Regions from separate parts of the Homo sapiens genome. Here region 1 is linked to region 2. The links come from fine-mapping of genetic effects on gene expression. A gene starts in region 2. The other region holds a variant in brackets. All regions are shown on one strand. Distances are from middle to middle. Region 1 holds the start of C1R (complement C1r). Region 2 holds the start of CLSTN3 (calsyntenin 3).

What was found.
Region 1: its variant is fine-mapped to the expression of CLSTN3 in whole blood (TOPMed, PIP above 0.99).

The regions. Positions count from the first base shown.
Region 1 is chr12:7,091,963-7,099,962 of GRCh38, forward strand. C1R (complement C1r) reads right to left here and starts at 483. Exons shown (of 11, transcript NM_001733.7): 1 at 425-483. The coding sequence starts at 426. C1RL (complement C1r subcomponent like) reads right to left here. Exons shown (of 6, transcript NM_016546.4): 4 at 7,939-8,000; 5 at 7,724-7,798; 6 at 2,592-5,201. The coding sequence ends at 4,429. RefSeq lists an enhancer at 531-825. The variant C/CT (reference allele first, on the strand shown) is at 3,158.
Region 2 is chr12:7,125,535-7,135,863 of GRCh38, forward strand. CLSTN3 (calsyntenin 3) reads left to right here and starts at 4,837. Exons shown (of 18, transcript NM_014718.4): 1 at 4,837-5,178; 2 at 7,490-7,612; 3 at 8,039-8,234; 4 at 9,793-10,001; 5 at 10,270-10,329. The coding sequence starts at 5,115. RBP5 (retinol binding protein 5) reads right to left here and starts at 3,355. Exons shown (of 4, transcript NM_031491.4): 1 at 3,169-3,355; 2 at 2,706-2,884. The coding sequence starts at 3,241. RefSeq lists silencers at 4,594-4,693, 5,784-5,853 and an enhancer at 5,135-5,636.

The DNA of each region.
Region 1 (8,000 bases), 35 kb before region 2:
CCCTCCCCTTCCAGGAATAGGACTGGCTTGGGACCAGTTAATGGAGGGTGAGGGTTTCCACCCGTGGGTCTCTGAAAGGGCTCCCACAGGTTCAGCAAGAGCGTCTGGGAGAAACCATCTGTGGAGTGGGGGACACAGGCACAGAGTGTCCCGTCCTGGGCAAGGGGTCCCCTCCTCTCGCTGCTCCCTGCCAAGAGCCCAGAGGGAAGAAAGGACCATGGCATGAGCATCTATGTATGAAGTCTCCTCTGATCCCTAGGAGGAGGGATGGGGCGTGTGTTGTGTGTGTCCACGCGTGTGCACAGTGGAACTGATGAGGTGTGTGAAGAGAGAAGGGTGTTCCTGTCTCCCTGAATTGCCTCCCATGCCCTGGCTTCTCCCCTGGCTTCTCCCTCCCACCTGGTTGCCCATCACCCTTACTCACATTTCTCAAGGCCCGTGTTGAATCCTGGGCTCTCCCGACAGCGTCTTCGTGCACTGTGTGCAGAGGGAGCCCGCGTCATGCACAGCAGGGAGGGGAGGGTTTTCTGTGGAGTGGAGGGGGGACCATTCCCGGAGGAATGTTGGAGGGAATGAACTATTTGCATAAACAAAAGATCTGAGTTTCCACTTTAATTTAGTTTTGGTTTTGAAATCCCTGTTTGTGGTGCCACCTGCTGGTCGGTGAGGGAAAGGGCTAAGGAGACGGGAGTCTGGCTTTTTAGGGCCCGGGGAGCCTTGGGTTGGAGGCCCAGATGTCTCAGTCTCTAAATCTGATCAGCTTCTCCCTTCTTCCAAGACTTTCCTGGGGGCTGCTGCTGTGTTTACAAGGTTCCTACCAAAGCAGTGGGAGACCACAGGTGGTGGTGAATTCTCTTTTCTGGGCTGTCCTTTCCCATTGACCCTGTTCTTCCTGCCCTCATTCAGCCCACAGCCCTGGTCCAAGAATGGCCCGGGTTTCAATGCCCAGGACGTAATGATAGGAACACTGGGGCAGAGGAGGGTGTGTGGGAGCGGGCAGAGGAGAGAGGAGCTTGGTTGCCTTGGGGCCCTGGCCTGCTTTAGCCATGAATGACACTTGGACATAGAATAGGGTTGGCCATGTCAGGGCAACCCTAAATCAGCCCTGGGTTTGAGACCCTCTGGGGCGGCTGCGGAGGGGGTAAAATGTCCCCATCTCCTTAGCATCTGCTCAACACAACTGCCAGGGCTGAAGCTAAGGATGCGGGTGTGGAGCAAGAGGGACTCGGTTTTTCTGAGATGAAGCCAGGCCCCTGGGAGGGAGGAGGGACCCTAGTCTCTCCTGTCCATCAGGCCATAGTGTCCTGCTTTAAAACTTTTGCTCTTGGCCACGTGTGGTGGCTCATGCCTGTGATGCCAGCACTTTTCGAGGCCAGGGTGGGAAGATCTCTTGAGCCCAGGAGTTCGAAACCAGCCTGGGCAACATAGTGAGATCTCGTCTCTAAAAGTTAAAATAAATTAAAAAACAATTTCATTGTTTTTGGAAGGCTTTCTTCATCAACTCTCCATGGCACCAAATATCTGATGGCACTTCATCCCACGGAGGGGCTTGGGCTGCAGAGCAGGACTCTGCGTTCTTAAGCCTTTGTAGGCTGTTCTGCTTGTTTCCCTTATTAGATGAATCCCTCCAACCTCCACCCTTCTGCCCCCACCCCCGTTCATCCATTTATGGGCTACCTGTTTAATGTGCAAGACACTTTCCCAGGCAATAGATTGCAAGAATTCACAGAGCTGATGCAGTTCCCCATCAGGCAGTGACCACATCATCAGTAGTTAGACAGCAGGCACACAGAAGGTGCAAGATCCACCAACGCTTGGAGGGTTTCTCCAGCAGGCCTGTGTGTCAGAGCTGAGGACTGAACCTAACGGAGGGCTGGTCTGTGATGGGATCAGCATATGATCCACAGCCTTGTTAGATCAGGAAAGACAAAAGATGGGGGAGAAGGAAAAGCACCAGATCAGAGGACGAGAAGGAAGGGGAATCTCGTCTAACAAACTGCACATTAATATCCTAGCAGCAGTTTGTGTGTGTGTGTGTGTGTGCACGCGCGCATGTGCCGTATGTTCATAATGGAGGCAGAGGGAACAGGTAAGGAGGTAAGTCTTAGCTGAAGCTCTTCCGTCCATCCTAGGGATTCTCAGTTCTGCGTTGGCATTGTGCAACACGCTTGGAGAGCGGCAAACCTGGATGTCATTAGCTCAGTCCCAGCCCTGTCTCCACTCTGCCCAACCATTCAAAATAACCTTTACTCACACATTTTTGTTATGTCCTTGACTTTGTTTTGTCCTTGACTCATACCAAGAAGGAAAAAAATGCCATATGAAATGCTGCTGCGTTTGTTTTAAAACAATTATTGAGGATATAGTCGGTTACAGTGTTTGTTCCTTTAAGGATTTGATTCTTGGGAAAAAGATTTCTCTCTTAAAGTAGTGGTAGGTTTTCCTCTGTGGATATGTCTCTATCGCTAGCTCATCTATCTCCATCATCTCTATCTCTTACCTCCCTCTCTCTCTCATTGTCGATATCTCTATCTCTAGACAGAGACAGCGATGGAGATGTAGAGATATAGATCTAGACATACACATATAAATATAGGTATATATATATTTTTTTGCCTTGGCAGGGAGAAACTCATATCATTTTTTGCAATCATAAAAATAAGCAAAATAAAATAAAAACATTTCATGCTCATTAAACAAATTTTAGCCAATAGAGAATAGTGGAAAACCAAACAGCCAAAATCTTATCAATAAAACCACCTCTGTTTAGTATTTTGAGAGAATTATTATTATATTTTTGGCGATGGGGTTTCACTATGTTGCTTAGGCTGGACTTCAACTCCTGGGCTCAAGCGATCCTCTTGCATCAGCCTCCTGAGTGGCTGGGGGTATAAGTGTGCATCATTGCACCTGCCTTTTGGGAATATTTTTAATAATCTTTTGTACTGTATGTGGGTGTAAAAAACAGAAGTAATCACATGTATGTACAACTTTGAATCCTGCCATTTTTTAGAGATAAATTTAACCTTTGACCATATAGCAACTTGACTCTTGATGCTAACAAATTACCTCTCTTCTCTCTTTTATGGTGTTTATTTTCTATTTCCATTGAACAGTTGTATTTTATTTGTGTCTTTCACTGTAAATCACCTCCAAT[C/CT]TTTTTTTTTTGGGGGGGATGAAGTCTTGGTCTGTCCGCAGGCTGGAGTGCAGTGGCGTGATCTTAGCTCACTGCAACCTCCGCCTCCCAGGTTCAAGTGATTCTCCTGCCTCAGCCTCCCGAGTAGCTGGGACTACAGGCACGTGTCACCACGCCCGGCTAATTTTTGTATTTTTAGTAGAGATGGGGTTTCACCATGTTGGCCAGGATGGGCTGGATCTCCTGACCTCGTGATCCACCCACCTCGGACTCCTAAGGTGTTGGGATTACAGGCGTGAGCCACTGCGCCCGGCCCATCACCTCCAGGTTTTACTAAAAATTAAAGAGTTGGTCCTCTCAGGTGGAGCAGTTCCCCTGATGATAGGGGCACAGGTGGGGTGTCTGCAAGAACTTCAGTCCAGTGCTGGGCTCACCTGGCTTCTGCAGGAGATGGGGCCATTAGGAAAGTGTGAGCTAGAGGATACCATTTTCGCAGAAGCAGGAATTCCCAGGGAGGGAAAATGGTAAGGATGTGGGGGCTGGGAGGGAAAGCGGGTGACACAGCAGGTTAGAGGAGGGTTGAGAAGTATTGCAGCACACTGGGAAGAGCACAGTCTCTGCAGTCACACACCAGCTGTGGGACTTGGGCAAGTCCCTTTATCCCCTGAGCCTCAGTTTCCTCATTTGTCACACATAGATAATAACACATCCTTTGCAAATATGGTATGAGGATTAAGTGAAATAACAGGTGAAGCACCTGGCATATAGAGGACATAAAATAAAAAAGGAGCTGTTTCTATAATTGCATCTTGGAGCTGCAGAATAGCTTGAATATTTGAAGGTCAACTAAAGGGTCTTAGGAATGTTTCAGAAATGCAATGCAATGAAAACCCCTTCCTCCATACTCTAATAGCGGGTGAGTAGCTGACTCTTCCACAGGTGAGTATAAAAGCTGTGTCAACAGATGAAGTAGGGGAAGGCGGTTCTAAGGACATTCAAGGCGAAAGTTGTTGAGATGTACAGGCTTCCCGGGGCCTAGTGCATGAGCACAGGGAGGTAGAGGGTGAGGAGGAGCGGTCTGTGGGACTCTGCTTCCTGTCTGGGATGGGGCGGGCTTGCCGGGTGGGGGTTTCTCTTGCAGTGGCTTGGTGCAACAGTGATGTGAATAGGATTTCCCTGCCTCCCCCAACCCCCCACCCCCAACCCCTACCCCAGTGTTCAGTCCTCACTCCAGGCCCTCTGTTGCCTGGGGCCTCCACTGTGCTGGTCAGTCCCTGTTCAAGCCCCCAGGGTCAATTCTTGCCATTCATCACTCCCTTGATCCAGTCCACATAGCTGAGCACCTTGGTGTAGAAGTCATACCCTTCGCCACACCCTATGCCCCAGGACACAATGCCCGTGGCCACCCAGTGATGGGCATGATTGTCCCATACCACATAGACGCTGCCACTGTCCCCCTGGCAGACACTGTGCCTTTGCGTCTCATCCCCAACACAGAACATATTGTCAGAAAACACCTCGGGTCTCTGTCTCTTTTGGAGCCAGGCGTTGCAGGCCTCCCTGGGAGCTACAGGCAGCCTCGAGTACTTCAGCTCAGTAGTTAGCCAGCCCATCTCCATGCCAAACCCACTGACGTAGCCCAACAAGCCGCTGCGGTAGAGGGTCTCATTATCGGGCAGACAGACCGGGAGGACGTTGGGGCCCAGGGGGATGCTGTGCTGCAGCTCCAGGAGGGCGATGTCCCCGCTAAAGTTATGGGACTCATTCTGACGGTAGTCGGGGTGCACAACGACACGGTGGACAGGGTGGTTCCCCAGTTTCAGCATCTCATCTATGGCTGTGTGGCCCAAGAACACATTCACACTCTGGTTCTTCCTGAGAGAAACACTGTCCTTGGGGTAGATGGTGTGGGCAGCAGTGAGGATCCATCTGTCCCCCAGCAGGGCCCCGCCCCCACGGCCGTGGATACTGGTGAAGGCTTGCCAGGGGAAGTTGCCCAGCTTGGCTCTGGAAGAACCGAGGGTCGTCTGATTCTGGGCAATGGGGGTGACTGGCCGTCCGCAGACTGGGAGAGAGGCGGGGTAGGGGTGACAGTCAGCAGCTGCATCTAGACACACTGATTAAAGACCTGCTTCTCTGAAGTGCTGTGGTAGGGGACGCGTGAAGAGACTCTGGGATCAGGACGTTTTTTTTTTTTTTTTGATATCGAGTTTCGCTCTTGTTGCCCAGACTGGAGCGTACTTGCGCGATCTCGGCTCACTGCAACCTCCGCCTCCTGCGCTCAAGCAATTCTGCCTCAGCCTCCCGAGTAGCTGGGATTACAGGCACCGACCACTACGCCCGGCTAATTTTTGTGTATTTTTTAGTAGAGACGGGGTTTCATCATGTGGGCCAGGCTGGTCTGAAACTCCTGACCTCAGTGTTCCACCCGCCTCTGCCTCCCAAAGTGCTGGGATTACAGGCGTGAGGCACCGCGCCTGGCCGGGATCAGGACTCTTATACTGATGCAGACCCACGGTGTAGACCATGTGGGCAGACAAGGACAGGTAATCAATGCCAAGTGTACGGGGCACCCATCCTGCATGGGACTCAGGACAGTGGACTGAGGGTAGGGAGCACAGATGAGCACATGTTTGGGGCTGGTTCTGCAGGGCTCTCCTTCCTGCCTCCTCAGAGGCATTAAAGCCATTCGTTTGGACCATCCTGGGCCCCCATACTACAGGCAGAGTCTGTTTCAGTGCCTCCTGCCTCAGTTTTGTGTCACTTCCTCATTTGTAACATCTCCCACTACCACCTGCCCTCCAAACCATCCCCAAAGCACTGCGAGTGTTCAGGCTACCCTTAGAGTTTTCCGTGGATCAGATTGGGTTAAGAAGGCAATGCTTTCGGCCGGGCGCGGTGGCTCACGCCTGTAATCCCAGCACTCTGGGAGGCCGAGATGGGCGGATCACGAGGTCAGGAGATCGAGACCATCCTGGCTAACCCGGTGAAACCCCGTCTCTACTAAAAAATACAAAAAAAAATTAGCCGGCCGTGGTGGCGGGCGCCTGTAGTCCCAGCTATTCGGGAGGCTGAGGCAGGAGAATGGCTTGAACCCGGGAGGCGGAGCTTGCAGTGAACCGAGATCGCGCCACTGCACTCCAGCCTGGGCGACAGAGCGAGACTCTGTCTCAAAACAAACAAACAAACAAAACAAAAGAAGGCAATGCTTTCATTCAAAAGCGTGGATCTCAAAAATGGTGGGCTTGAACCCTCATGTATTGCCGGTGAGATGTAACTTGGTGCTGCTGCTGTTGAAGACAGTTTGGTGGTTCCTCAAAAAGTTAAACAGAATTATTATACAATCCAGCAAGTCTACTGCTAGGTATATACCCAGGAGATTTAGAAACGTACGTTGATATAAAAACTTGTACACAAATGCTCATAGCAGCATCATTCATAATAGGCAAGAAATAGAGACAACCCAAATGTCCATCAGTTGAATGAATAAACAAAATGGCGTATCCATAGAAAGGAGTATTATTTAGCCATAAAAATGAAATACTGATGGATGCTATAACAGGAATGAACCTTGAAAACATTACGCTAACTGAAAGAAGCCAGACAGAAATGGCCACACATTATATGATTCCACTGATATAAAATCCATAAAGGCAAATCCATAGAGATAGAAGATTAGTGGTTGTCAGGGGAGAGTTGGAGGTACTGGGCTGTTTTGGGGAAGGTAATGGAAATGTTCTGGAATTAGTGGTAATGGTTTCACAACATTGTGAACACACTAAACATTACTGGATTGTACTGTTTAAAGTGGTTAAGGCTGGGCGCAGTGGCCCAAGCCTGTAATCCCAGCACTTTGGGAGGCTGAGGCGGGACGATCACCTGAGGTCAGGAGTTCAAGACCAGCCTGACCAACGTGGTGAAACCCTGTCTCTACTAAAAATACAAAAAAAAAAAAAAAATAAAATAAAATAAAAAAATGAGCTGGGCATAGTGGCAGGTGCCTGTAATCCCAGCTACTCAGGAGGCTGAGGCAGGAGAATCGCTTGAACCCAGGAGATGGAGGTTGCAGTGAACCAAGATTGTGCCGTTGCACTTCAGTCTGGGCGACAAGAGAGAAACTCCATCCCAAAAAAAAAAAAAAAAAAAAAAAAAAAAAGTGAGCCACTGCGCCCAGCCATGAATTTTATCTCAATAATTTTTTTTAAAATGGTTGACTGTCTGGCACTGTGTGGCATCTAGGTAGGGAGATATTTTAGGAATAGAGAGCCTGTCGGTATATCCTTAAAATGTATGGCACAAAAAGAGGGTTTTCTGTTACTTCAGCTTGTTGGTCTCTCTTCCTCCTTTTCTAGTCCATCTCATGAACGTCCTTCATGCTTTTCCTCAGATATATCTTGACCCCTGAAGAATGAGGAACAAGCTCCCTGCCTGTTCTTTTCTGGGCCTTCTTGATTGCCCTGTTCTTCCTCACCTTCTGCTTCTTATCTTCCTTTCTATTCTAAGGCTTTCCTTTAACCCCTGTGTCCTGTAGGTCCCAGTTGCAGCTGAGGCTTGTTGGGGGAATGGTGCTAGCAGGTGGCTACTCACCAGGCATACACTGAAGAACCTCCTCCCCATCCTGTCTGTCTTTCCAGGTCCCTGGGGTTGCACAGGTGAGTGCCCCTGTGGCGTAAATGAGGAGAGGCAAAGAAATAGGCTCGGAGTTGAAGCTGTTGGTTAACGAAGCAGGTGCTCAGAGGGTGTCAGGCATTTGGGTGGGAATGAGGTGGATGGAAGCCACCCCTCGGCAGGTGGGGACTCACCTGCTGCCGCGGCCTGATAATAGGGCTCCTGGCAGTGGTTCTGGACCTTGGCAGGGTTGTCT
Region 2 (10,329 bases):
AACAAGGAGCTCAGAGTCTTGAAGAGATAGAGGATCAGTAAATAGGTAACTGTGACACCAGGCAAGAGTGAGGGATGGCAGTGGGGCGGGCAGAGTGAAATCTTTAAGGAAGTTGGGAGTTAATTAGATTGGAGAGAATGGGAAATTTCTAGCAAGGAAAGAAACAGCTAGAAATAGCGGTAAAAGAGAAAGGCAATTAGTTCTGAAGGGCTCTAACCTAGAGTATATGTGGTGGAGGCAATTGAAGAGTTGATTCACAGAGACCCTTGTATGCTGAGTTAAGTGTAACAGATGATGTAATGTAATAGATCATCACTGAAAGGGTGTAAGTCAGAGAGTGACATGATCACATTTATGTTTTAAGTAGACCCTGTGGCTACAGCATGCAGATTAGAGGAGGGTTAAGCGTGAGAACCAGCTGGGTGCAGTGGCTTAGGCCCGTAATCTCAGCATTTGGGAGGCTGAGGCGGGAGAATCACTTGAAGTCAAGAGTTTGAGACCAGCCTGGGCAACACAGTGAGACCCCACCTCTACCAAAAAAAAAAAAACACAAAAACACAAAAAAGCAATTTCAGGCACCAGGAAATGAAGGCCTGAATTAGGGTGGTGATAGAGAAAGGTTAGGAGGGAACACAGGAGAGCCATTTAGAAGAGTGATGCTCAACAGAAATAAAATGGGTCAGGAGCCATATTAGAAAAGTAAAGAGAAATAGGGGAAATTAATTTAAATAATATATTTTAGTTAACCAAAAATATTCAAAATATTATTATTTCGGCATGCAGCCAATATAAACATTTCCGAAATGCTTCTTTTTATTTGGCATTGTCTGAAAGTCCACTTACAGCATCTAGATTTGGACTAGTTATATTTCAAGTATTCAACGGCCATCTGAAGTTAGCAGCTGCTATACTGGGTAATGCAGAAAAGCTACAAAGATTTCTTGGCCGATTAGATGTGGTGGTGGTGGTGGTGGTGGTGTGTGTGTGTGTGTGTGTGTGTGTGTGTGTGTGTGTGTGTGTGTGTGCTGGGAGCCTAGAGGTAAGGAAACAAGAGATATTGACCATGACTCCCAGGTCTCTGGCCTGGCTGGTTATTGCCATTAGTGGAGAGAGTAGATATAAAAGTGGGGTAGGTTTGGATAGGAAGACAGTGAATTTGAATTTGACCTTGGCATTCAAATGGAAATTGGTTCCAGGACCCCCACCTCACTAAATCTGCTGAATAAAATGGCTTAGTATCTGTAGAGAAACTACATACATCCCCCTGTGTACTTTATTATTATCATTTTGATACAGAGTCTTGCTCTGTCACCCAGACTAGAATGCAATGGCATGATCTTGGCTCACTGCAACCTCTGGCTCCCGGGTTCAAGTAATTCTCCTGCCTCAGCCTCCCAAGTAGCTGGGATTACAGGCATGCGCCACCATGCCCGGCTAATTTTTGTACTTTTGTATTTTTTTTTTTTTTTTTTTTTGAGATAGAATTTCGCTCTTGTTGCCCAGGCTGGAGTGCAGTGGTGCGATCTTGGCTCACTGCAACCTCTGCCTCCCAGGTTCAAGTGATTCTTCTGCCTCAGCCTCCTGAGTAGCTGGGATTACAGGCATGCGCCACCATGCCTGCCTAATTTTTTGTATTTTTAGTAGAGATGGGGTTTCTCCATGTTGGTCAGGCTGGTCTCGAACTCTTGACCTCAGGTGATCCGCCCGCCTTGGCCTCCCAAAGTACTGGGATTACAGGTGTGAGCCACTGCACCTGGCCTAATTTATGTATTTTTAGTAGAGATGAGGTTTCACCATGTTGGCCAGGCTGGTCTTGAACTCCTGGCCTCAAGTGATCTGCCTGCCTCAGCCTCCCAAAGTCTTGGGATTATGGGTGTGAGCCACCACGCCCAGCCTTTTCCCATATGCTTTAAATCATCTCTAGATTACTTATAATACCTAATGCAATGTACATGCTCTGTAAATAGTTGCTATACTGTATTGTTTTTTATTTGTATCATTTTGTATTGTTATTTTTTATTTTTATTTTTCCCAAATATTTTTCCATTTGCAGTTTGCTGAAGCTGTGGATGCAGAACCCATGAATATGGAGGGCCAACTGTATTTTGTAGGCAGTTGAAAACATTGCCCTGGAGCTCAGGAGATGGCTCTGGCTGGAGAATTCATGCCAAGGGCAGCCTATAGATGGAAGCAGAAGGCATGGGTGTAGATGATTTAGCCTATGGATAGTGGGCAGACAAAAGGGAGAAGACATTAAGAACAAAACTCTGCGGAGAAAACTCCAGTTTAAAGGATTAATAGGAGGACTAGGATCTGCAAAGGAGGCTAAGAAGGAATATGTAAGAAGTAGAAAGAAATGCAGGAGAGTGAAGTTATTGATGCTAAAGTAAAAGGGACTCTGGGTGACCAACAGTGTCACAGGCTGGAGGGTGGGCAAATGTTTGCTCTTCGGTCTGGGTTGGCCTGTTCTTTGCCCTTTGGGCTGGTGATAAGAGGGGGCAGGGAAGAAGTGGGAGAGAGACAGGGAGCACCAGGACCTGTTAGTTCTGGAGACTGGTATCCTGGGGACTGCATTCCCTGCTGTGGTGACCATTCCCCTCCTCCCCGCTGCTCTGGCTGGGGAAGGTCACTTTGTTTTGCCCCATGTTGTTAGGAGTCTCCTGTGATGCCTCCTTCCGGCCACCGCCCAGCCAGGGGAAATGTACCTGGCATTTTCGTCCGTCCACGCTCCTGAGGTCCTCCTCAAACTCCACTCCCACATCAAACTGCACAGTGTAGTTTCGGAAGGTGCTGAGCGTCCTCACCGTCATGTGGTTGCCCTGGTGTTCGATCTCCTTGTCCGGCTTCAGCAGCAGCGCGATCTTCCGCACAGCCAAGCTGATGTCTGTGGGGGCTGCCTGTTAGTAGGGGTGCTGCTAGCCAGCCAGGAGCTCCTCTGCCTGCAGCAGCCCCTCAGGGCTGTGAGTTTCCCTTCTTTGGGTCTGGGACTGTGGATTCACCCCCTCCTACCAATGCCTGGTTAGAAATGGATCCCAGGTCTGGTGCCAGCCGCCTGAGCCTTTCCACAGTGTCCAACCCCGGGCATTCCCTCTTCTCCATGGGACCAAGAAGCAGGAAGGAAGAGGGGAGAAAGGGAGTGACAGGGGTCTGGGAGGGCGAGGCCATTACTTAGGGCTTGCAGGTAGTCCTCCATGTTCTTCTGCGAGACAAAGCGGTAGTAGCCAGTGAGGTTGGGAGGCATTGTGTGGATGAAGGTTTCAGGAGAATGCAGGAGACAGGGTGAGGAAGGAGGGGGTGTTGTCTGGCAGGTGAGGCTGAGAGATTCCAGCCAGCTCCACACACAGAGACAGGATGTGTAATGGCCGGGTTACCAGGGCTTTTTATAAGGCTGGGGCCCTGTTGCAATAAGAGTCCCTACCAGACTTCTTCCCTCCCCGCATGGTGAGTTTGGGGGTGGTGTCTCCAGCCTGAAGGAGGGGCAGGGATTTGGCAAAGTTGCGCCTGACCTTGGCTTTTCCTGAGGAAGGAACCTGGAGCAGGATCCTTCCTGAGGAAGGAACCTGGAGCAGGATCTGGGGCTGTCAGTCATCCAAAACTCAGCCATCCAAAGGTCAGTGTTGGCCTCCACCTCATTTCTGGCAGGCTTGGGAACCGTCCCAGGGCCTGAGGGGCAGTCTTTCCTGGGAGACACCTGAGGCTGGTCTGGCTGTGTGAGGTGGAGATGAGTTCCAACAATATCCTGAGATCCTGGGACTGAGTGATGTTGGAAGATGTGAGGGGAGGGGGTGAGGATGGCCAGCTGCCACCATGAAGAGCACCCTGTAGGCCTGGCTCTCAGAGCTCCCTCAGGTAGTGTGCTCAACTGGGACCCCAAAGTGGCATTCCAGACTCTTGGTCCTAAAGAGCCATTAGGAGGGAGGTGGAGCCCGAGGGGTGCTGAGTTCAAAGTCCGGAACAGACAGCCTGAGAGGAGTTTGTTGGCTATTCTGGAGAATTTTATTCTTTTTGGCTTGGGACCCAGGGGGTTTTCTCTCCCTCTGAGTCATCGATGAGACCGTAACCCCCAGTCCCCAGCCCTAGGACAGCCCATGCTTTCCAGATGTATTTCTGTGAAGGTGGGGTGGAGGCGCCTAAATAATATTGTGCCCCGCCCCCAGCTGCCCAATTCTCTCTCGAACCTGCCATCGTCCCGGGCTTCAGAATCCACTGGGCTTGGTTCATCATGGTTTAAGGTGAAATTCGGGGCGAAGGAGGCAGGACAGGTAGGCAGGAGGAGGCGGCCGGTCCCGACAGGTGCGTGCGCGAGGGGTGCACGACGTCCTGCCCCTCCTTGGGTCCCAGAGCCTCGATACCGCCCTGCGGACCGCCCTGTGGCTTCCTCGCAGCCCTGGGCTACAAATGCCAGGATTTCTCAGGCTCAGACTGAGGGTTTTACTTCACCCTTCCCAGAGGGCACGCAGCACGGATCTGTGGATGGAAGGGGCTGTGGAAACAGGTTATGGCAGAGTTGGGGGGCGGGGTGACGCGGTGCCACCCCTCCTGGCCGCCCTCAGGTCCCGCTGACGTCTCTCTTCCCCACCCCCTGGCTTCTGGCTTCTTTCTCCCCACGTCCCTCTTCTTTCCCACCCCCTCCGTGGCTCTCCAGCTTCCTCCCCAGCCCCCGCAGTTCCTCGGCTCCCCCAAAATTGCAGCCAGGGGAAGGAGCCTTGAAACTCTCCAGCCCCGACGCCCCAGTCTCATTGGCTCCCTCCCCCGCTGCAGCACCTGGTCCCCCCCCCTCCCAGTCACCTGATTGGCCGGCGGCCCCATCAATCGTTGCCCGGCTGTGCTGACGTCATCCTGCAGTAGCGGGGTTGGGGTGGGAGTGAGAGAGTGAGGACGCTGGGCTGGGGGAAACGGGAAGCCGCTGCAAGTCCACCGCCTCAGCTACCCAGATTGGGATCTGCCCAGGCCCGCTTTATGGACTAGTGTGGGCGGCAGGCTCCTTTCCGTCCCTGCCCTGCTGTACCCCGCTCCTTGGAGACCCCCTGTATCCCTCCCGCAAGGTGGAATCCGCAGGCTGGAGGCTCCCAGGGGAGGCAAACGCCTGGCCCTGCCCTGCCCCACGCCGCACCATGACCCTCCTGCTGCTGCCCCTTCTGCTGGCCTCTCTGCTCGCGTCCTGCTCCTGTAACAAAGGTGAGTGAGGTGGGGGTGGGGGTACCGAAAGAGGGGCGTCGGGCAGCGCCGTGCGGGGTGGGGGTGGGAAGGAGGTGTCGAGGCTCCCTGGCACCTGACAGGTGTCTGGCCCTCTTCTGATCACCCTCCTTCCCATCCGTTCTCAGACCTGCTCCGTCTCCTCTCTTTCTCTTCCCCCAGCTACATCTTCCTTTCTGGTCCATCTCTACCCATGCGTTTCTCTTGCTGGTCATCTTGCTCCCATTTGGTCTCCATTCCCGTCCTGGGGTCTCTATTCTCCCCTTCCCCTAATTTCTACACGCTGGTGGCTACCTCGGGTCTGGGAAGGACTGCCCCCGAGCCGGTGATAGGCCTCTCCCCGCGGCTCTCCCTTTCACTGGCGCATGCTAAGGGTGTGTGGCAGATCCATCTGCTTCGCCTCCATCCCATCCTGGGGAGAAAGTATTTGCTGCAGTTCAGCAATTCGGAGCACGTATGTTTTTTGCGTGTGCCTCTGCATTCAGACCCTTTTGCCTGCATCAGCTGGGCTGTGGGTTACCAGAGCTGCCCTCTCTGGCAGACAGCGGATACATTCAGCTGGGCGGGGCTGTCGGACAGACGGAGAGGGAGGACGGGAGGGAGGGCTTGCGGGCAGAGGGCTCAGGTAGGTGGAAACGGATGGAGACTGGCAGGAAAGGGCAGAAGTGGGTGTGTGGGGGGCGCTAAATGAGTATGAGAGGGAAAGCTGAGAAGGAGAAGACCGGAGATGAGGCGTGGGAGGGGGTAAGGAGGGGATGGAAAAGGGTAAAGGTGGAGGCAGAAAAAAGAGGGAGGAATGAGGAAAATCAGGAAAAGAGTGAGTCAAGGAGGAGCCCGGGAGCCTAGGAGTGAAAGGGAGCAAACGCAGAGACCGCAGGGGGCCAGGAGGAGAGGAGACAGAGGCTCAGAGACCTGGGAAGACAAGCAGGGTGGGAGGGGGAGCTGTGCAGAGGGCGCCCAGCCCTGCCCTTCCACCGCTCTCTCTTCCTTGCCTGCATCTCTGACCTCAGCCTCGCCTCCTAGCCTCCTGCCACTTCCTGTACCGCCTCCTGTGCACCATCTTGTGGCTTTCTCCTCAGCATTCAGGAAGGGGTTATGGTGGTCATCAGTAAGAAAGCCTTCCCATGCCAAAGGCTTGCTGGTGTGTGGTTGGAGGAAAGAATGGAAATCAGGGTTTCTTGCTCACCGTGAGATACTGGGGATGAGGTTCCTTTTGGTGACTCAGTTTCCCTCTGCCTCATGATTGTGCTTTGGGAGCCTGGGTGTTGGCATGATGATGGGATTAGAGCAAGCGTGGAGGCTGGGGTGGGGGGTGATGTGGAAGGGGAGGAAATATGCTTCCCCACAGCCCCTCACCAGGCTGAATCTGGTAGAAGATGGGGAGATTTGGAGTCTGATGAGTCCCGCATCCATTCTGAATTGGCTGGTGGTTGAAGGGAAGAGGGATGGGGTAGATAAGAACTGGGATTGAGTTCTGTATAAAAAGTGGGTTTCAGGGAATGTGGTTTGATGGTCTTGTGGAGGACATAGAAATGTGTCGGTTTCGAATGTGTTCTCTTGGGTGTGGGGGTGGGAAGCAGGGACGGGATTTGTCATGTTTCTAGGCCAGCCCGATAATCCCTTAGGATGACGGCTCTGCTGGGTCCAGTTGCTCAGCATTGATTCCTCTGCTCCATTCCTGCCCCTCTCTGCCCCCTCCCTCTGTCCTATATATCTTCACTTCTCTCCTTTCTCCCCATCCTGTGTTCTGGGAGAGTGGCCTCAAGTTGGGGCTTGGCTGGGAGAAGTGCAGAGTGAAGGGATCAGGACTGAAATGAGTTGGGAGGAGGATAAGCAATCAGGATCTCAGGAAACTTCTAGATCTTTTTCTAGTTTCAATTCTGCCCTTAATCTATCCCTTCCCTTTCCCAGGGCCTTCTCACAGCCCACCACTGCTCCCTGAAGTTCCCTGTCTCCATTCTCTAGCACGTGAAATCGCTAAAGAACATTCTCCACTTCCTGACCATGGTTCCCATGGAGATAGTGATCCCCTCCTCTTCACCCCCAGGGCAGGTTGTTTCCATGGGAACTGTCTACCCTGCTATAGGAGAAGGCTATGACCTCCCGCAGACCCTCTGACTCCTTTAGTAGCTGATTTCTTGTCCTCAACCACCCGCCTCCTGTAAGGTGCTCCTATAGGGGGTGGAAAAGGTGATGGTGCTGGGGTGTGAGTTGTCTGGGTCAACAAGGGTTGTTGTGGGAGTAGAGGCCCTGCTCACAGGTGCTTCCTCTCCTCTCCCTGGGGTGGGGCCAGCCAACAAGCACAAGCCATGGATTGAGGCAGAGTACCAGGGCATCGTCATGGAGAATGACAACACGGTCCTACTGAATCCACCACTCTTTGCCTTGGACAAGGATGCCCCGCTGCGCTATGCAGGTAATTGGGATTGGGGGATGGCAAGGCAGGGTAGGACAGAGAAAAGTGGGTGGGAGGGCCAAGAGCAAGGGAGGGAGGGAAGGTCCTGGGAGTGATGAGAAAGTAAGGGAAGATAAAAGTGGGCTCAAGGAGGGGAATGGTCTCCACTGAAGAATGGAGATTGAGTCAAGGATGCCAGAAAAGGACATGGCCAGGCAAGGGTTAAACACATCATGATTTTGTCAGATCTCAGGTCTGGAGGCTCTGGGAGGTTGCTGCTCAGGGAAGCTGGGCTTAGAGTTGCGTGTTTGATCATTAATGCTTTTGTGCCTACAGGAGAAGGGACAGGGCTTTGGGAGGAGAGGTGGAGCTGGACCCCAGGTGGGGAGACTGAGGGTGGGGAAGGAGACACAGCAGCCTCACTCCTCCCCTTCTCCCCTTTGCCAGGTGAGATCTGCGGCTTCCGGCTCCATGGGTCTGGGGTGCCCTTTGAGGCTGTGATCCTTGACAAGGCGACAGGAGAGGGGCTGATCCGGGCCAAGGAGCCTGTGGACTGCGAGGCCCAGAAGGAACACACCTTCACCATCCAGGCCTATGACTGTGGCGAGGGCCCCGACGGGGCCAACACCAAGAAGTCCCACAAGTGAGGAAGTCCTTGTCTCCTGCCCCATGTGTTGCAGGGTCCTCCTCCCTGCTCCCAAGCCCACCATCCTCTGTCCGTGCGGTCATCGAATATCCACCCCCACCCGCTGCTGTTCCTAGGACTTAGGGAGCCCCATCCCCTGCTGTTCCTAGGATTTAGGGACTTTCAGGCAAGGTGACAGAAACGTATAGTAGAGTTCAGTGGATCTAATCTTGGCTTTGCCTCTCATGACCTTGGGCAGCCTAGCCTTTCTGGACTTGCTTTTCCTTATCTGTAGAATGGAGATTGTGATGACACCTACTTCATAAGGCTGCTGTGAAGATTCAAGGAGATGGTTTGTGTTGAAAGCATGCACCACAGTGCCTGATACACGTTGAAGGGCACAGTACATGGGCATAATGATGAGGAGGAGAGCAAGAAGGAAGAGGATGAACACACTCAGCATGCATCCAGTTCCCTTTCAACTGCCCCCTCCAGTCTATTTGCAGTGTATACCACACACACGATCCCTATCATACACATATAGCTCTAGGTGAGGGTGGGCAGGCGATGGTTGTAGCAAGAAAGAGGCTCGGGTCTGGGACACCTACGCTTGTTGCCAGCTAACTTCTTATTTGAGAATAAGAGAAAGATCTTCAGTCAGGATTCCTGAGCCACTAAGAGGCACTAGAGATAAAATGCTCTTTGTGACTCAGTTTCCCATTTGAAGATAGGACCCTTGCCTCTGGGGCCTGGGAGCCTGGGTCTTGGCCTGGGGCAGGGCTCAGCATGAAGGGCCTCGACCCAGCTCTGCTTGCCCCGGTGCATGACTAGGGAGGGGCCGCATGTGCGGGAGGCAGCACTGCCCACACGTACTGTGCAGACATGTCAGATGACTTGTGACCTTTGTACACATGCCATTTCCCTTCTTATGGCTGGTTTTAATTTGGCTTTTACTCTGCATCTTCCTTGCTTATCCCCCCGGATCTGACTGTTGTGAAGGAAGGCCCTGCTGGATTTTATGCCTTACCCCTCCTCTTGGCACCCTGACCCATAGCATTTTGCACAGAAGTCATCAAAATCAGCTCCTGAGCACCCCTGGGCCTTGTTCCTCATCCCCTACATCAGTCCTCCTTTCTTTGGGCCCTCCCTCTGGTGTTGTCCTCTCCCTGGCATGACTTTGATGCAGCTTGGTGCCCTGTGGGGTGGGGAGGAGCGTGCTGACTGCCTCAGTCTCAGGGATAGATGGGCAGGCTCCCTCCTGTTCTGGCTCTCCGTCGGGATTCCTGCTTGCTCCTTTCTGGCATATGGGTGTACCGTGTCGAGGCTGTACCTTGGTGTACAGTATAAGGCTGTATCTCGTTGTGCCCATATTGAGGCTGTTTGTTGGTGTACAGTATTGAGGCTGTATCTTGGTGTACGGTATCGAACCTGTCCCTCCATGTGCCGTATCAAGGCTGTATCTTGATGTACCGTATCGAGGCTGTACCTCGGTGTGCTGTATCAAGGCTGTATCTCAATGTATAATGTCGAGGCTGGCTGACGTGTCTTCATCCCTCCTTCTCTCTGGCATATGCAGGGCCACTGTGCATGTGCGGGTCAACGATGTGAACGAGTTTGCCCCAGTGTTTGTGGAACGGCTGTATCGTGCGGCTGTGACAGAGGGGAAGCTGTACGATCGCATCCTGCGGGTGGAAGCCATTGACGGTGACTGCTCCCCCCAGTACAGCCAGATCTGCTACTATGAGATTCTCACACCCAACACCCCTTTCCTCATTGACAATGACGGTGAGTCCACCCCTGGCTTCCCTGGCCACCCAGTTCCCCTTGAGCACCCACCTCCCTCAGGACAACCCAGGGTTGCATTCTCCACTTTTGCCCCTCAGACCCTCACCTCACCCTTCTTCCCAAATGGAGCCTTCTCCTCCCAGATGCCTTTTTTCCCAGCGTCCTGCTGCCTAACCTGCCTGCTGCCCGATGATCTCAGACATCCTCCCCTCCCTGCCCTGGGCTTTCTCCAATGCTCTAATGCTCTGTCCTCCTGACCCCACCCCAGGGAACATTGAGAACACAGAGAAGCTGCAGTACAGTGGTGAGAGGCTCTATAAGTTTACAG